2 separate regions of the Homo sapiens genome follow, and region 2 is linked to region 1. A link means that fine-mapping ties the variant in region 1 to the expression of a gene that starts in the linked region. Tissue or cell type: tibial nerve. Region 1 holds a variant in brackets; the other region holds the start of a gene. All regions are shown on one strand. Distances are between the middles of the regions.

Region 1 (5,395 bases):
GTCTCTCACATCAAGCCCCAACTCAAATCCTATTTCCTGAGATACTTGCATGCAGGATAAATTTGAAGAAAGCGGGATGCAAGAGAAGAAAATTAATGGAGGAGCATCCTTCATTACTAATTTATTTATTCATTCCTAATTGAACAAACAAACCTTTTTTTAAAAGTCCTCAGGAATTTGTTGGTATACAGGACTGATAATTTAATGGACTGGACAGAAAACTTTGATTCCCTCAATTTTTTAACGTGAAAAAGAAAACCTTGTTATGGAACAAACACATAGTCTTTTATGACAACTGAGCCATATTAAGATATTTCAAGAAAGGGTGGGTATGCATCAGAAATGATTTTGGTAGTAACAGACTTGGTGGATAGAACTGGCTTAGCAATTTTATCCAGTAATTCAATTATTCATCAATTCTCTTGACTTAACTCATATAAAGTTTATAGCAGCCATTGATTCACATACTTTTCTTGACCATCAGCATTAATAATGTACACCTCATTCAGGAAGCTTCAGAGAGATAGCCAGATGATACAAGGGTTCAGGAGTAGCAGCTCATCTCTGTGCTACCATGAGAAGATCATGAGTTTATTGTGGACCTCACCAACCTTGAGAATGGCTTTGCTCAAGAATATGCTGGCCCATGTATCTGATCAACACGTTCTCCTCCTCAGGGAAAGTTCATAGCACAAGTCCTTACTCCTGTACTTCTGCTCAGAATGACTTGTAGGGTTAAGCACGGGATTTGTTATTTGACATCCAGGGCAGACACTGTAGGGAACCCCAAGGTTATTCAGCACACAGGACTCAGTCAGGCAACAAGAGTTATTCATATCAGGGGCTTCTGTATGGTCATCATTGATTTAAAATCCTGCAGTAAGGCCAGAAGCCAGATGCCATAGACTGAATGCTTTTGTTCCCCTCAATTTCACATATTGAAATTCTAACTCCCAACGTGATTGTATTGGGGGGGGGGGGGGGCGGGTGGCGCATTGGCAGTTGATTAGATCACGAAGGTAGAGCCCTCATGAATGGCATTAAGTGCCTTTATAAAGGAGACCCTGGAGGACTCCTTCACCCCTTCTGCCATGTAAGGCTACAGAAAGTTGATGTCTGTGAACCAGCAAGGGAACCCTCATCAAACGCCAAATCTGCCAGCACTGTGATCTCAGACTTCCCAGCCTCCAGAACTCTAAAAAATCAATGTCTGTCATTTATAAGGCACTCTGTCTATGGTACTTTGTTATAGCAGCCCAAATTGACTAAGACATCAAAGAAAATCATAGACTATATTCTCATGAGCAAGTGTAGCCAAGCTGAAAGTAAGTGCATATGTGGACACACAAACACATGCACACACAAAATTACCCTCAGCGGTACTGGAGGCTCCATCTACCTTGCAAAGTACAAACAAAAGCAGAGTCGAACAGCATTTCCTCTTCCTTACTGGCAACTCCACATCCCGCATCCCTGACTTTCCCCTATCATAATGCATAATGCCATTATCCACTCAACTGCCATTGCTGGAAACATGAGCATTTTCCTCCTTGAGTGTTCTTTTCCCCACCTTCCTTTCTAGATTCCCCAAGATCACTAAAATATATCCTACAATCTATATCAAATCTTCTTTAATCTATGTCAATGCATGTTAATATTTCACTTGCTAATGCTGCCAACCAAAATTTCGTACCTAGATTGTCCTTCTAAATGCTCTCTTCACCTCCATTCTAGGATATCTGTATTTTCAGGTTGTTTCATAAGACATTTGCTGATTTCTGAGGATGCATGGGAGCACAATCTGAGTAGACAGCCGAACAGTCATCTAAAATGTTGTAATAGTTTTATTGCACACACACAGCAAAAATATTTCAAAATAGCACAGGCAAATATAAAAGGAACAGTTAAAAATTTCTTCATGATCTAGGAGAGAGGTGAACAAACTTCTCCTGTAAAGGGCCAGATCGCAAAGATTCTAGGCTTTGTGGAACATACGGTCACTATTATAGCTACTCAACACTGCTGTTACAGCCCAGAAACATCGATAGACAATACGTAAAAAAACAAATGAATGTGGCTGTGTTCCAATAAAACTTTATTAAAAAAACAAGCGGCAAACCAAATTTGCCCCGCAGGACATAGTTTGCCCACTCCTGTACTAGACCATCAGTCTTATGGCCCAAATTAACAATTGTTAACAGTTTCTTGTAAAACACATTGCTGTTTGAGTAAGTCTTTTAAGCAGCCCCAGCTAAACAAAATGTAGCTTTTACAGACAGCAAGAATACACAATGGTTTACCTGTGCTATTTTTTTTCAAAGAGGGAAAAATGACAAAATCACTTTTTCTATAAAGAAGAGAAGTACAATGTGGCTTGGGTACATACCAATTACCTTTTGTTCAGTGGCTCTGGAGAGTCAAAAAAGGACAAAGATTCAAGGTTTTGGCTACCACAACTATTCAACATGAGTTCTAAACTACAGGTTTTTTTTTTTTTTTTTTTTTTTTTTTTTACCAGAAATGAAATTGCCAATACTAGTTTGATGCTTGGATAAGCATGTAAAGTATCTAACCCACCTGATGGCAAAAATCACAGCATAAGCCCTAACGAGAACCCTGGCATTCTGTGGTTTGACCTAGAAATTTAACCACTACAGCAAATACTGTTTCAAAGGTAACATGCATTCTGAGCCAAACAAGAAAAAAAGAAAAAAAGAAAAAAAGTTTGAAAATTCAGGAGCCACATGAATACACCTTTGCAAAAAAACTGTGGGTGGCCTGTGCCCTGCAATCTGGTGCACATTTCGTGGGTAATTGAATAGCGCAGTGTAGCATCTGTGAATCAAAAATTCAGAACTTCCACCAAATGTAGAAAAGTGTATTAGTATATTAG[G/A]AAAAATTGTGACTATAAGCTCATGTTCCACTTTGGTACTTTTTAAAAATATTGATTACAAGTTCTCCATGGTCATTGCCTTTCTTTTCTGTGATTCTTTTTGTATCTCTGAATCTCCATGTTTCTGACTTACTATCTGTTTCTGACTTTGTCTTTTCTCTTTCTTCATCTCTCGGTATCTCAGTATCTGTCTCTCACCTTCTCCTCCAATTTCCTTTGCCTTAAGATTTTTCCATTTAAGCAGAAGACCATTTAATACCTCACCTCCATGAGTGAGGAGTTACAGGAAGAGTATAAGTGCTTGACTTACTATGTATAATACCTATGGCTAAGTGCATGTGTGTGTACATATATTAATATCTATGCATAGACAGATGAATATCAACCTCAAGCTAATGTCAGATTTAAATTGAAATATATTTATATCTATCTAACCAGCTATCTATGTATGTATCTACTCATTCATATATATTCTCTTTGTTGGAAGCACAGGTCACCAGAATGTCTAAAAACTGTATATGGTCTCGTTGGTGCAAATACCTTCAAATATATCTCTTCTGTAATTAAAAGAAAAAGAAAACTCAAGAAAGGAGTGAAAATATCTGCTATTATACATTCAGAAGAGAAGAGTGATCTTCTTGCCACCTTTGTCATCAAAACCAGCTACCAACCGTAGCAATCAGATACATTTTGTCAAATTTAGTCACCTAAAATTAAGTATAATGAGGCTAAGTTCATCATCCCTTTTTCAGCCTGCAATTATTTAAGAAAATCATACAAGTAGTTTATGTTCATAAAATAATCAGAAAATACAGAAAATTTTTAAGGATAATTGAAACCCTCAGTCATAATGTGGTAACATTTTAGCCACATCTTTCTAGATTTTTACAGCTTCATTTTATTTTACAAAAACAAAAATGTATTCAACAAAATTGAGATCCTTTTATATACCAGATGCCCAATTAGATATTTGAGAGGCATAAGAGAACTCAGACAAAAATTTTTGTCTTAAAGTCTTAATGTTTTTCAAATTTATGATTTTACTTTGTTTTGCTACACATATTTTACAAGCCATTACATATAGATTCTACATTTAATGACTATATAATATTCTCTCATATTCTTGTACAAGGTCATAAGTCTTATTAACTTATGCTTTTCTGCACCAAGAAAAGTTAAAGAAAAACCAGCATAAATTTAGTATTTACTCTGGGCAAATAGTTACAAATGTTGTAAGGGAGATGTGAACAACAAAACAAAACAGCACAATAACAAATACAGTAAGAAATAGCTCCAGCCCTCAAAGAGGAAAAGGGTAAAAAACAGAAAAGGGAGGGAGCACATTATAAAAAGATAGTAATATCACAAGTGATAGAATATATATATTATATATATAAAGTCGGTATTAGATATTGTGATTATCATGATTGTTAATAAAATAACAATAACAAAGTAATAACAATCAACATCTAACATTGGAGTGTTTATTATGTGCCAATCACTATTTTAACTGCTAGATATCTATCAACCTATATGTCTCCTAACAAACTTGTAAGAAGGGTATTTTTTTACATATGATGGCAGAGTCACAAAGTTATCTTCATGAAGTCACTAGGCTAATAAAAGTTGGAGAAAGATTTCATATCTAAGGCATCTGTTTCCAGAGTCATTGCTACTAACCATTACGCTACAGCCAAAAGACTGTACCCCTTTATCCTCACAACGCATACATTATTCATGCGGATATCTAGGTATGACGGTTCCGTGTAACTCATTCCAACTACAAGAATTACTAATCAAGGTGCTTATTTTAACAATAGAAAGATCACTTTCCAGGAAAAGGCATTGTCTCTTCTTGCTAAAGAGCTGGCAGGACATCCTACATGTGCAACAATAAAATCCTGTAGGGAATGGTTTTCAATCTTCAGTATTTGTAAGAATCATCTAGGGAGTTATTAAAACATGAATGTACCTGTTTATTCTCCTGGCCCCTCCAACAGAATACTAATTCTGGAGTCTAAATTTAGGTAATGCAAATACAGGCAAGTGAAGTCCACACTGAATAGCTGGTTTAGCAGCCTATGAGAAAGCCCAGAACTTCCTAGTTCAAAAATCCATCCACTCGGCCAAAGCCAGGGAAAGTCTTTGGCCGACTTTCCCAGGGGGACTGGAGACAGCATTTCCAAACCAGAGTGACAAATCCTCTGATGATTGTAATCAAAAGTGCCAAGAGAATTAAAGAGGTCAACAAGAACTTTTACTTTCCAAACAGGAGAGCCCTACATCAGATGGCCCACGAGTTTGGGTTCTGTTATTCTGGTTAGGAAATGTCACCAGAACCATCAAACTTTTGGCTCAAGGGCACAATCTGATTAGACAGTTACCTGATACCATGCCTTAGTAGCCCTGTCTTGAAACAAGTGTGCACAAATCCATGCTGTCTCTCTAGCCTCAATGGCCAGCATGGAGAAGTCAAATGTCAAGACCCCATATTTTCTTCCT
Region 2 (5,395 bases), 170 kb after region 1:
TTTTTTCATGTGTTTTTTGGCTGCATAAATGTCTTCTTTTGAGAAGTGTCTGTTCATGTCCTTCGCCCACTTTTTGATGGGGTTGTTTGTTTTTTTCTTGTAAATTTGTTTGAGTTCATTGTAGATTCTAGATACCAGCCCTTTGTCAGATGAGTAGGTTGCGAAAATTTTCTCCCATTCTGTAGGTTGCCTGTTCACTCTGATGGTAGTTTCTTTTGCTGTGCAGAAGCTCTTGAGTTTAATTAGATCCCATTTGTCAATTTTGGCTTTTGTTGCCATTGCTTTTGGTGTTTTAGACATGAAGTCCTTGCCCATGCCTATGTCCTGAATGGTAATGCCTAGGTTTTCTTCTAGGGATTTTATGGTCTTAGGTCTAACGTTTGAGTCTTTAATCCATCTTGAATTGATTTTTGTATAAGGTGTAAGGAAGGGATCCAGTTTCAGCTTTCTACATATGGCTAGCCAGTTTTCCCAGCACCATTTATTAAATAGGGAATACTTTCCCCATTGCTTGTTTTTCTCAGGTTTGTCAAAGATCAGATAGTCGTAGATATGCGGCGTTATTTCTGAGGGCTCTGTTCTGTTTTATTGATCTATATCTCTGTTTTGGTACCAGTACCATGCTGTTTTGGTTAGTGTAGCCTAGAAGACATGATTGTATATCTAGAAAACCCCATTGTCTCAGCCCAAAATCTCCTTAAGCTGATAAGCAACTTCAGCAAAGTCTCAGGATACAAAATCAATGTACAAAAATCACAAGCATTCTTATATACCAACAACAGACAAACAGAGAGCCAAATCATGAGTGAAATCCCATTCACAATTGCTTCAAAGAGAATAAAATACCTAGGAATCCAACTTACAAGGGATGTGAAGGACCTCTTCAAGGAGAACTACAAACCACTGCTCAAGGAAATAAAAGAGGATACAAACAAATGGAAGAACATTCCATGCTCATGGGTAGGAAGAATCAATATCGTGAAAATGACCATACTGCTCAAGGTAATTTACAGATTCAATGCCATCCCCATCAAGCTACCAATGACTTTCTTCACAGAATTGGAAGAAACTACTTTAAAGTTCATATGGAACCAAAAAAGAGCTCGCATTGCCAAGTCAATCCTAAGCCAAAAGAACAAAGCTGGAGGCATCACACTACCTGACTTCAAACTATACTATAGTCAGGATTTTAAAGAAAGGACAGAAAAAGACAGAATTTTCCATATAGGGAGGGACAATATGGATAAATGGGAGGAGATGCTAATAGTATGTTGTTTAGGGATGATGGAAAAAGATAAGAATGAACAAAGATAAAGAAACTGCAAATGTGTACACTGTTTCCAAAAGTAGTAATGGCAGGAATACTTTTTGTGTTGCATTGTAGTATCTTGTATTGATGGAAATCTCTAGATCTAGTTTATGGTGTACCCAGTGTGAACCTGGCTGAGATATTTGACTCTCAAAGTCTCCTCCTCCAAAGTAGACCAGTTCCACTTTGGGCTTAAAGTGATGGGAAGCTGAGGCAAGACAGAATGAAGGCCCTGAGATGGCAACCAAAACCTCCACAAACAGCAGGAAAAAATGGAAAATGGGGAACAGAATAAAGGCAGAGACACACCCGTCTCTGCTTGTCCTTCTACCTGGATCCCAAGGGGCTACCTCTCCACTCTGAAAACCAAAGAATCACCTCTAAAGAAATTTGTATGTGTATGAGGATCAACCTACAGAACTTAGCACTGTAAAATATTGTTGAAGTGGAAACTGGAAACCACATTCATTTTATTTAAATCTAAAATAGAGAATTATATTTTTCTCAGGATTTTGTATTGGATTTAATGGGTTTTGTTTTTTGTTTGTTTGTTTGATTTTTTGGTAAATCCTGGATAGCTTGGAAGATCTACATATGATGAACATGTGCTTTTTTTTCTGGTTTGTAAAATCGAAGAAATAACATTTTTATTCTTTCTCTTTCCATCCCCTGACTAGATTAGTATTGCTCATTAACACTGTTCTGGAGCTGTAGTTAGTTCTGAGGTGGTATTTGAGTATGGTGTGTGGGCACTCATGCAGGTTTATCTGCTGAAGTTGCTTGCATTCCTAGTGGCAAGTGGAAGCAAAGCTTACATGGGAGAGTCTTCTGGTTGCTGTGCTCTGCCTACTTCTTATAGTAAGGCCTCATTGCTATTGGCAGTGAAAGGTACTGCCAGACTTTATCCAAAATATTAGTCTAAGCATCACAACTACACAGGATATTCATGTACACAATTAGTACACTGGAAATATAGTTTTCTTAAATCACCCTATATAGATTTCTCCTACCTTTCATGAAAAGTACTTTAACTTCTCTCTGGGGCTCAATAGCTTCCCTGCCCTCAGGCTGTGTTCTTTCAATGTGGCCGATCCCACTCCAGTTCCAGACATGGGCATAAGACTTAAGCCCAAGCCAAGAAACACATTTCATTCCCTTGACTATAAACATTGTGGTGAGGGTAGTTATGAAATCACAGTGGGGCCAGTTTGAACCAATCAGAGGAGAGATTGATCAGAAAAGAGAAAGATTTTTTTTAATTGCTATTTCTCTTCTTTTTTCCTGGATTTAATCCTGCATAGAGTAGGAGAACCTATCTGAGAATGAGGCCAGCACACATAATGGGAGAAGATGACTGGAGATAAATTTCATGGATGATATCATTTGACTACTAAGTCAAGCTATGCATGAGGATAAATGTTATCTTGGACTTTTTTAAGTTTTATTACAAAATATAGTCTTATTATACTTTTGGCATCAAGAACATTTATTTGTTTGCATATTTTCATTTTCCACTTATGAGTGTCCTGATGCTAATTTTTAATAATAAAATGCATTTGCTTCTTCCAAAGTTTATTAGACATTTCAGCAATATGACATCATTCTTTTGGCTAGATATCAGTACACAGTACCATTTTACTTTAGTTCCAAATCCTTTCCATCTCCTTCATGTATTTTTCTAGTGAATGACCTATAAACAAACATGTATAGTGAAAAGACTGCCACTTAAAGGGCTTCTTTGTTTAATCTCAACACACAGATTGTTTTGAAAGTTGAGTTTTGTCATCTAATACATTACTATGGTAAAATATGGCTTTCATATGCTTGATTTTCTAAAGCATGTATTCACCTATAAGATATTCTCATTCTTGAGTCCTACTTGGTCTACTGATGCTTGGTCCACTGGTTTTAGTATAAAACTAAAGACATTAGGTATTATTAAAATATAATAATACCAACTTATTGAAAGATAACGCCTCCCCTCCCCTCTTCTCTCCTCTCCTGCCCTTCCTTCCTTCCTTCCTTCCTTCCTTCCTTCCTTCTTTCCCTCCTTCCTTCCTTCTTGTGAGGGTGGGGTATTGAAGGGATAAAATGCCCAGAGGAAAACTCCAAGATGGGATGGGAGACATAGGTCCAATATATCAGAAGGTTAAATTGAGTGGGCTTATGAGAGAAGCAGGAGAAAGGGAGGCTAGAGAGCCAATAAAACAAAGTTCATAGTGATAACTGGAACAGAATAGACCTCAAAGGCTTAAAGATGTCAAAGTCCCTGCATTTTTTCCTACCTTCAGAATCTACCACCTTCAGTCATGGAGAAGTCTTGATGAAGTTACCCAATCTATAACAATTCTATGCTGTGCATGCTGATTGAATTATCTTCATCAATGCATTCTGTTTTGCTTTTATCTTTTGCAGGTAACACAGTTTCTCACTCATTGAAGCTCCTCCAACATTTCTAGAAATATGGAGTACAAAAAGAATACGTAGGTTTTGTTAATTCTATAGATTGAATTAGAACTCCCAAATGATTTTTCAAATGAATATCCCCTCTCAAATCATTTAACTTTTTAAAGAGGTAATTTCACTCTCCAATTAGTATTTTCTAGTAATTGTACTTAAATGTCTCATAAAGTGCTCAGTAAATGTTACTTCAGCTTTTACTACCTCTTGCTAGAAACAGTTTCTCTTCTTTTTTATTAGGAACCAGCATCCTAACTAACCAGCTCCTTCAGAATGAGTTTACTAAAGGATATATTTTCTAAGGAATATCCACATTGTATATTTAGGGTTCATGCCAAGCTGTTATTGTTGTATGCCTTAACTGATTACTAAGGATTTATTGCTAGCCACTTCAAACACATACTCGGTAGTGTCCTCTCCATTGGCCAACCTGTTTCTCCGACCTTCCATCTACTTGAAAACATCCATGACTGTACATGACTCTATCAATTCCCTGGGCAGGGGTTGGGGGGATTTACTGATATATGTTCTTTTGCTATTTATTGAATCCTCTCATTTTGTTTAGTATTGTCCTGGATGTTACAGAGGATGTAATGACTAACCACATAAGAATACTGTCCTCAAGAAATATACAGTCTAATAGAAAGAAATGAAGACCAATAATTTGGGATCAGTTCTGGAAGGGAGAAAGTCAAAACAGGTCTTACAGTATAAATTGAAGGTGTGAGCAGGGTTGTGTTCTGTCTGGAGTTTCTAGGGTAGAATTGGTTCCTTGGCCTTTCTAGCTTTGAGAGGCTGCCCACATTCCCTGGTTCTCAATCTCACACTCTGACCTCCACTTATATTGTCACATCTCCTTTGCTAACTCTGACCCATACACCTTATAAGGACCCCTGTGATTACAATGGGCCCACTGGCTAATCTGCAATAATCTCCCTATCTCAAAATCTTTAATTTAATTACATCTGCAAAGCCTTTTTTGTCATGTAAAGCAACATATTTATAAGTTCTAAGATTAAGACATGAATATTTTTGTGGTGGGGACAATATTCTGCCTGTCATAGTCTCTATGTTGTTAGTGAAATAAAAATGCTCACGGAGCCATTTAGAAAAGGCCTATCACCTCCAAACTCGCCTTTCCATCACTTTTGAACAGTAGGTGGATTGTACCACCTAAATGTTTCCTGGATTCATCCTATAAAAGTCCCTTACTGGAAGCCACACACTGAAGAACAGAGTCAGAAGTTGAGTCATAAAACCAACTTGCTTACTATGGAAAGGATGAAGCCCAAATCATATTAAGTTACCAGCTGAAAATCACAAGGATATGTAGCTGTTACATGACATGGCCTTTTCACATGTGTGAATATAAATTTATATGAATCTAAAAACATATAAAATCTTTCAGTGAAGAAATGAATCAATCAATAAATATATTATCTTTATCTTCTTCTTTTCCCCTGTTCTTTCCCAGGACCTTAATCAAGCACCTATTTTGGGACAAGCACCACTGAGAATACAATGGCAGAAGACCATCTTACCCTCAAGAAACATTGCACTCACAGAGAAAAAATAAGACAAAGTGCAGACTCTGTCTATGGCAAGAAATATAAAGAAAACTATGTT

Which allele goes with the higher level. Positions count from the first base shown, and alleles are read on the strand shown. Sizes are in standard deviations (SD) of each study's normalised expression.
With allele G in place of A in region 1, the expression in tibial nerve of the gene that starts at base 2,431 in region 2 is lower (small effect, 0.22 SD a copy in GTEx).

What was found. PIP is the estimated chance that this variant, and not a neighbour inherited with it, causes the effect. A credible set is the group of variants that fine-mapping cannot tell apart.
Region 2: LINC01435 starts here. The variant in region 1 is the best candidate, but not a certain one, in a credible set for the expression of LINC01435 in tibial nerve (GTEx, PIP 0.79).

Annotation. Positions count from the first base shown.
Region 1 is chr10:107,901,389-107,906,783 of GRCh38, forward strand. The region is part of intron 4 of LINC01435 (long intergenic non-protein coding RNA 1435); the gene reads right to left. Among named protein-coding and RNA genes, the nearest start is that of LINC01435, 170 kb to the right of the region's middle. The variant G/A (reference allele first, on the strand shown) is at 2,894.
Region 2 is chr10:108,066,863-108,072,257 of GRCh38, forward strand. LINC01435 (long intergenic non-protein coding RNA 1435) reads right to left here and starts at 2,431. Exons shown (of 5, transcript NR_125760.1): 1 at 2,320-2,431.